Homo sapiens: one gene and its partners. The protein of the gene in region 3 purifies or fractionates together with the protein of the main gene of each other region. This does not show direct contact. Each region holds a gene or a part of one and is shown on either strand. Other genes may lie near its edges.

Region 1 (4,749 bases), on a different chromosome or scaffold from region 3:
GTGAGCCACCACGCCCAGTCTGTATTTATATCTGTAGCTCAGGATTATTGATTTTAGCTGCTTTTACGAGATATTCTGTGTAACTGATACCATACAATGATTATTTTTTGTATTGGTGGACATTTAGGCTATTTCTGATCTTTCACTGTTAGGTATGGTACTCCAACAAACATTCTTCAAACATTCTTATGTATGTCTTCACGTGTGTGAAAGTTACACTTAGAAATGGTATTGCTGGCTGGGTACTGTGGCTCATACCTATAATCCCAGCACTTTCAGAGGCCAAGGCAGGCGGATCACTTGAGGTCAGGAGTTTGAGACCAGCCTGGGCAACATGGCGAAACCTCATCTCTACTAAATACACAAAAATTAGCTGGGCATGGTAGCAGGAGCCTGTAATCCCAGGTACTTGGGAGGTTGAGGCAGGAGAATTGCTTGAACCTGGGAGGCAGAGGTTGCAGTGAACCGAGATTGCGCCACTGCACTCCAGCCTAGACAACAGAGTGAGACTCCATCTCAGAAAAAAAAAAAAAGAAATGGTATTGCTGAAAGGTATGCCTTCACTATTATTCTTAACCCATTTGTCCTTATTAACTCTAACAGAGGTTTCCTAGGTTATTATATAGATTTTCATAGATAAATACTTTTCCAGGTGGTTAAGAAAAGACCAATATTTGCAATAAAAAAAGATTTGGATGCTGATAACCACTGTAAATGAGTGAAGTGATATCTAATAGCATAAATACAATTATATGCCAGCCCCACCCCCCCCCCCAAAAAAATAGAGAGTTTTAGAGGAAGAAAAAGCAAAATAAAATTTTTTTTTTTGCAGTAGAATTACAGAAGCATTGTTTTTAGGCTGTAGTAAGGCTCTTATTGGAACGAAATGAGGGGAAATTAGGCAGGAATCTTTGCCTTGTACTTGGCTTTCAAAAGGAAAGGGTTATTATATTAAAGTAACACGAGTATTAGCAAAATAAAACTCATTTTCTTAAATCAGTAAAGAATTAAAAAGTTTGGGCCAGGCATGGTGACTCAAACCTGTAACCCCAGCACTTTGGGAGGCCAAGGTGGGAGGATTGTTTGAGCCCAGGAGTTCAAGACCAGCCTGGGCAACATAGCAAGACCCCATCTCTTCAAAAATTTTTTTAATTAGCCAGGTGTGGTGGTGCACGCCGGTCCCAGCTACTTGAGAAGCTGAGGCAGGAGGATCGCTTGAGCCCAGGAGGTTGAGGCTCACACATCACTGCAGTCCAACCTGGTGACAGCAGAACCCTGTCTCAAAAACAAACAAACAAAAAGTTGCAATCCAATCTAGAGGTAATTGAAAACCTCCCAAATAGGTGAAAGAAGTCTAACCTAGTATTTCTCAAATGTTAATGTGCATACAAACTATATATTTGTGTGTCTATATATATGTGTAACATTATATAGGGATAAATATATATTTGTATGCATATATATATACTAGGTCATTATATATATATATATATTTCTTCAAGATTGAATTGGCTTTTATTAGTGATTGATTAATCAGGAAGCATTTCATCTGTGAAATAGAAAGATGCTCTAATGAGCTAAACAGAGAAAAGGAACAAAACTCAGATTAGTTGTTTCAAAGTTATTTTCCTTATAGGACTAAAGCAGAAGGGACTTACCAGTTCAAATTGAGTGGTCCTCTTATGATTGATTGCTGTGAATCTCCTGTTTTTTGGAAAACTGGCCCATTTTCAAGTTCAGTTTGATTTTGTGGCATCTAGCATAAGTGATTACATTCTGCTTTGATCTGGTGTCTTGGGGCTTAGTGCGGGAGCTTAGTCCAAAACAGTGGCCTCCCATAAATTTTAAAAATATATTTCTTAGGCCAGGTGCAGTGGCTTATACCTGTAATCCCAGCACTTTGGGAGGCTGAGCTTGAGGCAAGCTAAGCCCAGGAGTTTGAGACCAGCCTGGTCAACATAGGGAGACCTCATCTCTATAAATAATCAAAAAAAATTAGCTGGGTGTGCTGGTACATGCCTGTAGTCCCAGCTACCTAGGAGGCTGAGGTGGGAGGATCACTGGAGCCCAGGAGGTTGAGGATGCAGTGAGCCATGAGAGTGCCCCTACGTTCCAGCCTGGGCCACGGTGTGAGACCCTGTCGCCCCTCACCTCAGAGGTTTAAAAACCAGTGTTACATAAAAACAACCAAAGGTAACTAATGATTTTAGTCTTACCAGTAAGAGTGCTGTACTCTTCTTTAACCTTATTACAGATCTAGAAAAAATTAGGTTACAGAGCGATCTGAGTGTGGGGTAATTTCTCATTTTGCTTTTTTATCAGAATGTGGAGAGTAAAGGAATGAGGGACCAGCGATTAGATCTTCAGAGAAGAGCAGCAGAAACCAGTGATGATGACCTCATCCCATTTGGAGACCGACCAACAGTGTCTCGGTTTGGTGCCATCTCACGAACTTCCAAAACTATATATCAGGGTGCTGGTCCAATGCAGGCTATGGCACCTCAGGGAGCTCCTACAAAATCTATTAACATTTCAGGTAAGAATCTCAGAGGTAAGCTGACCTAAAGGGTTCATAATCTTGACTTTCAGCATTACCCCTGCTCTCCATTTACTATCAGTGTTTTTAGTAATCTTGCAAGGCAGTAATTTTCAAACTTTCCATGGAATCATCCCTGTAAGAAAGGTAATATAACCCAGAGAATTTTAGGTATATAAACTGAAATTAAATGTCTATATGTGAAGCTTTCCTAATGTTTCTTCCCCACTCCACCCCCACCCCAAATAGCTTAATTGTTATTTGGGGGAATAACATTCTCATTATACAGTAATTTGGAAGAAAAACTACAAAGACTGAAAGTTCATTGGGGAAGAAACAAACATATATCAGCACCCAGCATCATGCTGCCTGATATTTAGAAAAACAAAGTTAAAGAATTTTAAAAATCTGGACATTTAGGGTAGATACCAGATACCTGTGTATGCAATACGCTGATGTCTTTCAGATTATGAATACCTTAAAAGAAGAATCAAATCTGTGAATTATACCATAATAAATCATTCTCTTACAGATTATAGTCCATATGGAACCCACGGTGGCTGGGGAGCTTCTCCATATTCACCTCATCAAAACATACCTTCTCAGGGACACTTCAGTGAGAGGTATGAGTCATTCTTTTTACTTGAACAAACATGTAGAAACCTTTAAAATTAGGCAACTTCTTTTTGTTTTTCTGGTCAGTAATATGTTAACAAAATGAAATGTTAAAATTTGATTCACACTTTCTTTCTAACCAAAGGGAGAGAATATCTATGTCAGAAGTGGCCAGTCATGGAAAACCCCTTCCATCTGCTGAGAGAGAACAGCTACGACTAGAATTGCAGCAATTGAACCATCAGATTAGCCAGCAGACCCAGCTACGTGGACTAGAGGTACCAGCCTAGAGAGCCATTTTATTCCAATTTTTGAAGGGTTCTCAGAGATTTTAAATAGGAACTTTTGAGGCACTGTGAACAAAAAACTTTAAGGTCTATTTCTTAGGAGTTAGTATAGGTTTCTATTCTTCAAAGAATTCAATACTGGATTTAGCTCTGGGACAACAGAAAACGTAAAATTTCTGCTACCTAAAAATAGAAAACAGATTACGTAAAATTTCCCAACAGGAGCTTATATTCCCTGATGGCACATTTAAGGTTTTTTTTGTTTGTTTGTTTGTTTGTTTGTTTTGGTTTTCTTTTTTTGAGACAGTATTGCTCTGTTGCCCAGGCTGGAGTGAGGTGGCGTGATCTCAACTCACTGCAACCTCCACCTCCTGGGTTCATGCAATTCTCCTGCCTCAGCCTCCTGAGTGGTTGGGGTTATAGATGTACACCACCATACTCAGCGAATTTTTTGTATTTTTAGTAGAGATAGGGTTTCACCCCTGTAATCCCAGCACTTTGGGAGGCCGAGGCAAGTGGATCACAAGATCAGGAGTTTGAGAACAGTCTGGCCAACATAGTGAAACCCCGTGTCTACTAAAAATACAAAAAATTAGCCGGGCATGGTGGTGTGCACCTGTAATCCCAGCTAATCAGGAGGCTGAGGCAGGAGAATCGTGTGAACCCAGGAAGCAGAGGTTGCAGTGAGCCAAGATTGCGCCATTGCACTCCAGCCCAGGCTACAGTGTGAGACTCCGTCTCAAAAAAAAAAACAGAACTTTGACTTAAAAAGTAAAACATAGTTCCGGTGTAATAAGAATAATAACACTTTTCATTTACGTAGTTCTGTACCATTTAAAAATCACTACCACTTATCTTATTTGACCCTTAGAATATCCCTGATATTTTAGGCAGGTGGTATTGTCCTCCTTTTTTGATTGAAGTATATGAGTTTCTCAGAAGTTGAAACACGAACCCAAGTCTTCATACTCCAGATTCAGTGTTCTTTCCATCATGCTGCCTGACACTTAGAAAAACAAAACTAAAGAATTTTTAAAATCTGGCTGGACGTGGTGGTTCATGCTTGTAATCCCAGCACTTTGGGAGGCCAGAGCAGATGGATTGCTTGAGCTCAGGAGTTTGAGACCAGCCTGGGCAACATGGCAAAATCCCTTCACTACAAAAAGTGCAAAAATTGGCCAGGCATGGTAGTGCACGCCTGTAGTCTCAGCTACTCAGGAGGCTGAAGGCAGGAGGATCACCTGAGCCCAGGGAGGTTGAGGCTGCAGTGAGCCCTGATGGTGCCACTGCACTCCAGCCTGAGTGACAGAG
Region 2 (5,274 bases), on a different chromosome or scaffold from region 3:
ATCTCTGCTAAAAATACAAAAAATTAGCCAGGCATGGTGGCAGGCGCCTGTAGTCCCAGCTATTCGAGAGGCTGAAGCAGGAGAATGGTGTGAATCCAGGAGGTGGAGTTCGCAGTGAGCCGAGATAGTGCCAGTGCACTCCAGCCTGGGCGACGGTGCGAGACTGTCTTTAAAAAAAAAAAAAAAGTGATTCTACTTTCTATCTTTCACTGGGGTTGGGGGCAGCGGCGGTGGGAGCTGAACCACCACCATAGCCCAGCCAGACTGTTAGTCCTTCATGAAGCTTTGGGACACTGCTGGGAAGAAGCTCTTGGCTAGTTTCACAGCTCTGGCAGCACAGACCCCTCTAGACCAGCTGAGAGGCCCACACAGCCTGGGCAGAGGCAGATACCTGACAGGTGGGGAGCTCAGCCCAACTCACTACCCAGCAGCTGGGCACATGGCCTTCCCCTTGGGTCACAGGCTCCTGAGTATATGGGAGCTCAGGCCCAAGAGGCTCCAGGAACCCCAGCCAGGCAGGTGCACCTGTCAGAAGATGCTGCCAGAGCCAGGCCTACCACAGTGCCTACCCTCCTACCCAAAAGACTCCCTGGCCAGGAACCTGTTTTCACTTCCTCTGAAACCGTCCCCTTGACCTGCTTTCTTCTGCAGAGGCACACGCTGCCCCACTTTGCCCTGTCTCTTCCCTGGGTGAGACTGGTGCTCCTGGTGCAGACTGAGGAGACTGTGGCTACCCCCAGGCAGGGAGTTTGCATGCTTTGGTACCCAATACACCCACAACACACCTGCATAGAAAGAACACGCTCCTGGAGCAAGATCAACCAGTGAAGCTCCCCCACCTAGGAGGCAGGGAGCCACAAGACAGCCTGACCTGCAGGCTTATGGGGAGTTAGGAAGGGAACTCACAGGGCAAGCACAGCAGCACCCAGTACATGGAGCCACAGGCAAAGGCAGTGAGTGCTTGAACAGCCACGGCAGTTCCGAGAGGCTGTGCAGGGGGAATAAGAAGGCCCAGGCACAGATCACCACCCTCTGCCCCGATCAACCTCTCCAGCCCCTCTCCTCAGTGATACATCCCAGAATCAGAACCAAGGGCAGCAGCCTGCTGCCACCTCCCCTTAGCCCCACTATCTTTCTGCTGCAGCTGAGGCTTGGTCTGAGTCAGCAACAGCCCCAGGGAAGGTGGGGAGGGTTCTGGCCATGGCACAGGGAAGACGGCCCAGAATCACTTGCCTGGCCAGGCTGAAACGGTGGCTGCCTCAGCTCCCAGGCACCCAGTCTTTGACCCCAGCCCATTCCATGACCACTGGCTCCTTCTCTGTCTTCTGGGTGGAAATCTGGGTCAGGGAGGAAGGAAAGGAATGAAAAACCAAACGGTGGTTCTCCAGGGGACTGGCCCAGGAGTAACTGGAGGGCACACTCAGGTACCCAGTGACCAACCACTATAGGGCTGGGTCTCTGCCCCTACCTGCCGTCCTGCAGATTTGAAACAGGGCCACTGTCCACCCACCTAGTGGCCCCTCTGCCTATGACCTCCCTGCCCCCCAACCTGTGATTTCACACTTCAGGGAAGGAAGAGGAAAGGGTGGAAGAGGAAGACAGTCCTGCCAGCATGTGTCCAGCAGAGGGGACACTAGGAGAACCTAACTGAACACAAGGCCAGGGTACTGCCTCTGTCCACTCGCGCTTAACTTGCCCGCTCTGTGATGGAGTGCTTGGATACAGGCTGCTCACAAATGCTGGGCTGCTTCTTTGACTTGCCATGGAACTTTCCAGACAACTGCCCCAGGGAGATGGTGTGTGTGATGTGTGAGGGGTGCTCACACTGCAACCAGGCCCTTGTCTGGGCTTTGGTACCTCTCCCGCTCCCCACTGCTCACCGGCCGCTCGGCTCTGAGGCCCGTGAGGACACTCTCCATCATGCTCTTCACATAACACAGACTCCCAGGTTCACACACACTGTGTTCCTGCATCAAACCGTTTCTTCCCCAAATGCCAATGACCTTCCCTTGGGCAGAACGGCCCCGCACACAAAGGGAATGTGTTGTGTTATGAAGAGGCACAGGCCCCGACCCTGGTCACCCAAAGGGGTCCCAGAAACCGCTCTGTAACAAGATAAGGTGGAGCGCTACTGCTCCCACTTTCCTGCGCTCCCAGTCCGTAGGTCCAGGACCTCCTCGGTGGTGTTGATGGAAATGATGGGAGTCACAGCAGGGGCTTTCCAATGCTTTTCATGGAGACCAGCAGTAAGAAATGCACTTTACGTCACAGCCCAGCACACGTGTATGTCATGTGTGCACATGTGTTGTGCATGTGTGTACATGTGTAGAGCGACAGCAGCCAATCAGAGCTAACTCTATTCTGCGATGGACGCACTGACAACTCCTGTTCTGTTGTGTTTTGAAGAACTAACTGGTGCATGGCGGCTCTGGCCTGTGATCCTAGCACTTTGGGAGGCCAGGAGTTTTTGACTGGTTTTGGCAACACAGCCAGACCTGGTCTCTACAAAAAATATTTTTCTGCCGGGCAGATCACCCCATCAGGAGTTCAAGACCAGCCTGGCCAACGTGATGAAACCCAGTCTCTAAAAAAGATACAAAAATTAGCTGGGTGCAGTGGTGTGCGCCTGTACTCCCAGCAACTCGGGAGACTGAGGCAGGAAAATCCCTTAAGCCCAGAAGCGGAGGTTGCAGTGAACCGAGATCGCGCCACTGCACTCCAGCCTGGGTGACAGCGTGAGACTCTGTCTCAAAAAAAAAAAAAAATTCTTAGCTGAGTGCGCTGGCGCACACCTGTAGTCCCAAGTAGCTAGGAGGCTAAGAGATTACTAGAGCCCAGGAAGTCGAGGCGGACGGGCGGGCGGGTCACCCTCCAGTTTGGACAGTCAGCAATGGAAGCTTCAAGGGTTGGGGCTGAACCAAGGGTGGGTGGGATCGCGTCTGATGCGCCCACCCTTCACGGGGACCGCGTGCCCCTCACTGGGAGGGCAGCCCGCCTGGAGCCCTACTGCCTCTGCTCCCTCTGGGGGTCCTGGGGACCCGATGGCCACCACTCTGCCACACGAGCCGCGCGCTCACACACTCCTCACCCGCCGGCCACATCCCTTGTCTGCGCACTCAGGCCCCTTCCACCCAGCGCGCCTAGCTCTCAGGCTTGCTCGCCCCAGCGCACGCGCTCCACCTCCCACTCGCGGTCCCCCCGACACGCGCCCCCGTCCACACTCGCCCTCCACCCCCGCTCTCGCTCACCCTCGCTCTCATAGCAACCCTCTCTCACCCTCGTCCTCACACCCTCTCACACGCCCCCTCACACACTTGCTCTCTCTCACGCACCCGCCCGGCGTCGCCCGCGACCCCACGCCCGTCCTCCCGGGGCCGAGCCTCGCTGCCCGGCGCGCCCACTTTGCGGGAGGGAAACTGAGGCCGTGCAAGGAGGAGGAGCAGGGGCCGGCCGCCGCGGGGCTCACCTGCATGTCAGGGAGGCCGGACGGCCACAAACGCACGGCCGGAAAACGCTCCAGCGCGCCGGAAGTCCCGCCCCAGGCGCCCGCGCGCCGCCGCCGCGCACGGCACGCTGGGATGGAGAGGGGCTGGGCCAGGACAGGGGACTGGGCAGGGCTGCCCGAAAGTCGGGGCCGGGGCCGGGGCCGGGGCCGGGGCGGGGCCGCGCCGGGGGCGGACCCCGGGCCCGGCGCGTTCACCTTGAGCGCCCCTGGTGCTCGCGCTGGAGCTGGTTATCAGGTTCCCGGCCCAGGGGTAGCCGGGTTCCCAGCGCCACGGCTCTTAGGCAGGCCTGGCGCCCTTGGCGTGGGGCCGCGCGGGGCCTTGGGCTCCAGGGCCTCTGCCCGGCTCGGCGGTGCCGGGAGAACCGCGCGGTGGGCTCCGCCCCGGCACGCTCCCCCGGGGACCCGGAGTCACCACTCCTGGCGTCCCCCCGACCCCCGCCTGAGTGGACCATCTCCATCCCCAGGCCGATGGCGCCCACTGCGCTGTCTCCAGCGGGGACTGCCCGAAACGCGCGCTCTCTCGGTCCGCACCCCCGCCTTGCACATTGCACGAGCCGGAGCCCCAGGAGGCAAACCAAGTTCCCAACTCAGCCCCTCGCGCTTGGATGAACGAGCGCGTGGCCAGCACTTTTGAGTCACCGCGCATTCTACGCGGCACAGGCTGTCCGACCCCCACCCCCAGCCCTAGCCGTTCCCAGCGCAGTTTCCTACAGAAAACCGCACGGCCGGGCCCCACCCTGCCCCGCTCAGCCGTTCCCGGGGCGCGCGTGGGCTCCAAGACACCCTGCACAGCTGCTTCTCCATTTCTGCTGCTTGGGAGCTTTCTCCTTAAACTAAGCTTTGTCTTTCTTTCTAGTCACGTTTCCTTCTTTCCCTTCCCGGTATTTTCTGCCAGCTGACGCCCACGCCTTTCCTAGAAGGGGCTGGGGGCTGCATGCGGTGCGAGGCACGTCCCCCACCAGCTGTGGGCTCTTACTCAGCTTAGCACTCGCTCTCAGCAAACGGCCTGGATGGTGGCCTGAAGCCTGACCTTTGGGGGTGAAGACCTCAAGTCGGCAGAGCTCTGGAGAGGGTCCCAGTAAGCTATGGCAGGTGTCCTCAGGGACATATGCGCAGTCCTCCCAATGCTAAGGAGGCCATGGCAACATCCAACTTCTCTTAGGAAAGGCACTTAGCCATTTTAGGATCTCATTGAGGTCAGAGGTCTTTGGCGCTAAAGAATTGCAGAATCGATCGGGCAGCCGCCGCCTTTAATCCTAGCACTTTGGGAGGCCAAGGCGGGTAGATCACTTGAGGTCAGGCGTTCGACACCAGCCTGGCCAACATGGTGGAACCCTGTCTCTACTAAAAATACAGAAATTAGGCGTGGTGGCGCATGCCTGTAATCCCAGCTCCTGGGGAGGCTGGGGCAGGAGAATTACTTGAACCTGGGAGGCTGAAGTTGCAGTGAGCAGAGATCACACTGCACTCCAGCCTGGGTGATAAAGTAAGACTCGGTCTCAAAAAAACAAAAAAAAGAATTGCAGAATCTACTTAGGGTTCACTCTGGGCCAGAACTACAGACCTCAAGAGCAGATGGGGCCCGCAGATGGGAGGATAGGAAGCCCAGAGCCAGGCCCCTCTGCAGAGCTCCCAACGGCCGGGTTCCTGGGGGAGTCTTGTCAGTTGCCAGCACAAAGCGGTCCGCTTCCCAATCTGCATAGTTTGTGCCAATGGGCCCCGTGTACCTGCATTGAAAACTGACTTCTTGGCTGGGCGCGGTGGCTCAC
Region 3 (4,749 bases):
TGATAAACAGCATGTTGATGTACTTATGCTCTGCAAGATACCCAACGAGAGACTAACGTGGGAATGGCAGGTTTGCATCACATACCTCACACTTACCTCTCTGGAGCATACCCTTCTTGAATGGAATGACTGGTAGACTCACCACTATTTAAATTCTCTATTTCTGGCTAAGTGCACATAATTGAATGTCGTGCATGTCAAGTGAGTGAATGACGTGGCCACTGTAAAGAGATAACATAAATGGATGAATCTGCAACATAAAAAGAGGCTCCACAGAAAACAGTATTTGACAGAAGCAGCTTTTTTCTCAAAATTCTCCGAGACTGAAAATGAGAAGATCTAACAACAAATGAAGAAGCAGTTCAGGATGAAATACTGATAATATATAAAGTGAATGAAGCTGATTATAAAACATGTATGAGAGCTGGATGTGGTGGTGCATGCCTATAATCCCAGCACATTGGGAGGCTGAGGTGAGAGGATAGCTTTGAGGCCAGGAGTTCAAGACCAGTTTGGGCAATATGGCCTGACCTGTAATTTTTTCCCCCCCGTGGGTACAAAGGGAAGGGAAACAGGATCTTCATCTTTTTTTTTTTTTTTTAATGTATGAATATAATTTTGAGTGAAATATATGCCAAAATTTTATGAAGTTTTTTTTTCTTTCAGTGCTTAGATAGATAAATGGTTTGCTTGCTATATAAGAACATAGGTTTGACATTTATGGATTTAACATTCCTGCTTTGACTATTCCTAAGTAACCTGGAAGGCTCAAGATAGGCAGAGGTATGTGATTTTGCTGATTTAATGTGCAGAAATGAGTCCATTACTTAGAAAATGTGCCTTGCCAGCTGCCCGGTTTATCTATCTCAGTACAGCTTTTTCTCTTTCTCTTTTTCTTTCTTTTTTTTTTTTTTTCTGTTTTGTTTTGAGACAAGTTCTCGCTAGACCTGGGTATGCACCCAGGCTAGAGTGCAGTGGTGTGATCATGACTCACTGCAGCCTCAACCTTCCATGCTTAAGCAGTCATTTTGCCTCAGCCTTTTGAGTAGCTGGAACCACAGACATGTACCATCATGCCCGGCTAATTTTTAAACTTTTTTACAAAGGTTGGGTTTTGTCCATATTGCCCAGGCTGGTCTCGAACTACTAGCTTCAAGCAATCCGCCCACAGCTCCCAAAGTGTTGGGATTACAGGAGTGAGCCACCGTGCCCAGTCTGTTTTTCTTGATTAATTCTTCTGCAGTACTTGCCATGAAGTAATAAACACTCCTTCCCTATTAAATATAGCACTTTGAAAGAAAGCAGACTAAATCAAGACTGTTGTTCAAAGTGAATAGATGGAAGAATTGATAGTTCTGTCAGGAAACAGGTTTTTGATATATTAAAGAATAGGATGTTTGACATGAACAGAGTTTGTCATTTTAAACATGGGGGAGAGTTAGGCAATGATATACATAGATGTGAGGATTGACAAAAATGATGTTTCTCTTCTTTAAAAATAACAGGATGGGCCAGGCATGGTGGGTCATGCCTGTAATCCTATGACTTTGGGAGGTCGAGGCAGGATTGTTTGAGCCCAGGAGTTCAAGACCAGCCTAGGCAATATAGCAAGACCCCATCTCTATTATTTAAAATAATAAAAATATTAAAAATTTATTATAAAAAAACAAATATCAGGATCATCTGTATTCAAGAAAAATGTACTGATAAGTAGGCTGCTGTTAATTTCTAGTAAAGAATCTAACTTCAAATCATACATAATTTTAGATAAATAGAAAAAATTCTGTATATTTTAACAGTATTAGGATGATTCTCTAAATATAGGCAAAGAACTGAAGAGTTCCATAGAAGGTGACTAACTATAAATGTATTATACATGACTGGAAAAGTAATGGCAAGCAAGACTTCAGAGCTGAGCTATCTTGATATTTTTATCCAGTGTGTGGGGTGTTACACATGCATCACAGCTATAATAGAGCTATCACATGGATCTTTTGAAAAACAAGATAGAGATGTTTTAAAGGCTTCTGGGTTTGATTTCTTAGTCAGATGCTGTGGTACTTGGCATTTAACAACTAGAATTCAGAATCCAGATTTTTAAAGGTGAATTATTTTAAATAACTGAGTTGTAATAGAGAAGTAATTTATTTGAAATTATTTTAGGAAATGGAAGATAAAGTGACTAGTCCAGAGAAAGCAGAAGAAGCAAAATTAAAAGCAAGATATCCTCATCTGGGACAAAAGCCTGGAGGTTCAGATTTCTTAAGGAAACGGTTGCAGAAAGGGGTAAGTTCTCATGGGTAATTTCCAAATACTTAAGCCCTACAAACTCAGTATGCTGACAGATTGTGAAACGGATATCTGTGCGTATAGCATTGTACTTTATCAGGTATGTACATATGTGTATATGTATCTGTAATGGGTTTTTCCAATATTTTGCAGTTTATAAATAAGCATTGTGAGAATCTACAACTCTTCAGCATTTTTAATAATAAACTATTTAAAGCATGTAGAAATAGTGCAGATATAACAGAACCCATATACCCCTTCCCAGATTTAATGTTTATATTTTGCCATGTTGGTTTCAGTTTTATCTTTCTTAAGAAAGAAAATGTTGTAGATACTGTTGAAACCCACCCTATATGTAAATATGAGCCCTTTCCCTTATCTCTCCAAAAGCAGCCACTATCCAGAAGCTGGTGTTTATCCTTCTGCCCATATTTTGAAACTTCCATATTTTTTGCAGGTGATTCCCACACAACATTCAAAAGCTTAAAATACTTATTTGGATGAAATGATCACTTAATAAATGCACAGCTATCTCCTTTATGTAATATGTTTCACAGTCAGATTTACTCTAATACAATTTAAACATTTTCATTTTCATAGTTCAAATTACTGAAGATATTATTTTCAAATTCTTGCCATGTTTTGCGAGGTAGATACCATTATTTCTCAATAATGAGATTGAGATAATGCTGGCCTGTTTGTTCCCTAAGTATTGTCCTGTGACCCCTTCCTTTGCTGTAAAAAATTAGAGAGTTCCATCTTCAGCTTAAGCATATTCAAATTACTTACTATACAGGGAAGGATGAAATACTACTTACGGAAGAGAATTGTTGAATGAGATGCTAAATCATGTTTCTCCTTAAATACATTCATATACTGATATCGGCTCCTTGCTTAAAACACGTCTGTGTGTGTATTAGCTCTAGGTACATATGGATTGTTTTAAAGTGGCAAAAAATAGAATGGTATTTTTAATCTTACATGAAAGAATAATATTCACAGCTTTGAAATACTAGGATGATGGAATAATGACACCAAATTTATGAAGATGTAAAACTCCCGTACCATGAAATATATAATCAAGTAGGGAAGTTATTACAAAAATGTTAGTTAATGTCTAAAATACATACAGAAACTTTTAAATATATGAAAGGGAACTTTTAAGTGTACAAGAAAAACACTTAAGGTGCTCCTGGATAAAGGATTTTAACAGGAAATATAAAAAACAGAGAAATGTTTATATATTATAGACATCAGTGAAATGCAAATTACATCATAGTATTTATATAACTAAATTGCAAAAATGTTTAAAATAATACCTATTGCTAAGGTTGAAGTTGAATGAAACTAATATGCTCTTTGTTGTGTTTAAACATTAAAAATTATTACTCGTTTCAGAACAGGGTATGGATTAAGGTTTATAAAAATGTTCTTCAAATCAATAATCTCTTATTTATTAATCTAAGAGTATAATTCAGTACAAGGAAAGTCTTCCAAGTTGGAAGGTCCTCCTTATAGCTTATAACTATAATTAGTAGCAGCACCACTATTCAACAGCAGAGAAATGATTAAATAAATTGAAGTAAGTCAATAAAATAGTATTATGTGGTTATTTTAGAACATAAAGATCATAATATAGGGGATAAATAGAAGAAGTAGAATGACAACTGTGTTTTTAGTTATGAGATAAATTATTTAATCTTTGGCTATTAAATTATTTTGATTTGATTATTGTTTAGGAAATATTTTCTTTGCTAATCTCCAGCATAACCTTGGCTAATAGGCTTTCTTCCAACATTGGGCCAATTGTCACTGTAATTTTTCTCTAGCTTGAACTATTTATTTTTAAGTATCTTCAAGTCAGATTTCATATACATTGTATCTTGGAGTTGGTGTTGTAGATATAAATAGTTGAGAATGAAGAAAATGCTACTGAATCAAGAAATAAGTAGATAGAATTTGAGAAGTGAGCTCTTTAATGATTCTGTATTATAACAGAATGTCAGTGAATAAGTTATTTTATATGAAGTTTTGATTTTTTTTAAAACTCTGGATCACAGGTTCTGGGTTTTAATTTTCCTCTATCACTAGTTAGCAAACTTGACAAATTACCTTAGCATCTTTAAGTAGCTTCTTAATTTGAGAAGGTTTGATTAGATATTATGATTATTATAATAGGTCTCTTCTTGTGTTGTACTCATTAATGTTATTATGAGGTTAATGTTATTATTAGGCTTTTAACAATATGACTGTGTACACATGACTACATAGATTATCAGAGCTGGGAGGGATATCAAGAAGCTGTGTGGCCTGTTTTTACATTTTTTATTTCTTTTTGCTTTTTGTTTTGTTTTTTCATATTTGTAGGGGTTGTGAAGTCCCTAGAAAACAGAGAATCCAGTTGTAAGAAACATGGCTTTAAAGTTGAACATTACCACTTTAGGTGATCACTTAGTGTCA

Evidence for each region. Proteins that work in one complex are often made in the same cells at the same time.
Region 1: the proteins of ARPP19 (region 3) and RC3H1 fractionate together in Homo sapiens (co-fractionation; one large-scale study listed by BioGRID). This does not show direct contact.
Region 2: the proteins of ARPP19 (region 3) and CHID1 fractionate together in Homo sapiens (co-fractionation; one large-scale study listed by BioGRID). This does not show direct contact.

The regions. Positions count from the first base shown.
Region 1 is NC_000001.11:173,945,156-173,949,904, reverse strand, and holds part of RC3H1 (roquin-1), read left to right. Parts: intron 1-2,322; coding exon 2,323-2,536; intron 2,537-3,068; coding exon 3,069-3,159; intron 3,160-3,296; coding exon 3,297-3,429; intron 3,430-4,749. UniProt on the Homo sapiens protein: Post-transcriptional repressor of mRNAs containing a conserved stem loop motif, called constitutive decay element (CDE), which is often located in the 3'-UTR, as in HMGXB3, ICOS, IER3, NFKBID, NFKBIZ, PPP1R10, TNF, TNFRSF4 and in many more mRNAs.
Region 2 is NC_000011.10:907,309-912,582, forward strand, and holds the start of CHID1 (chitinase domain-containing protein 1 isoform a precursor), read right to left. Parts: upstream 3,503-5,274; 5' UTR 3,467-3,502; exon of another isoform or gene 3,333-3,466; intron 1,338-3,332; exon of another isoform or gene 1,234-1,337; intron 1-1,233.
Region 3 is NC_000015.10:52,554,637-52,559,385, reverse strand, and holds part of ARPP19 (cAMP-regulated phosphoprotein 19), read left to right. Parts: intron 1-2,163; coding exon 2,164-2,286; intron 2,287-4,749. UniProt on the Homo sapiens protein: Protein phosphatase inhibitor that specifically inhibits protein phosphatase 2A (PP2A) during mitosis. Inhibition of PP2A is enhanced when ARPP19 is phosphorylated.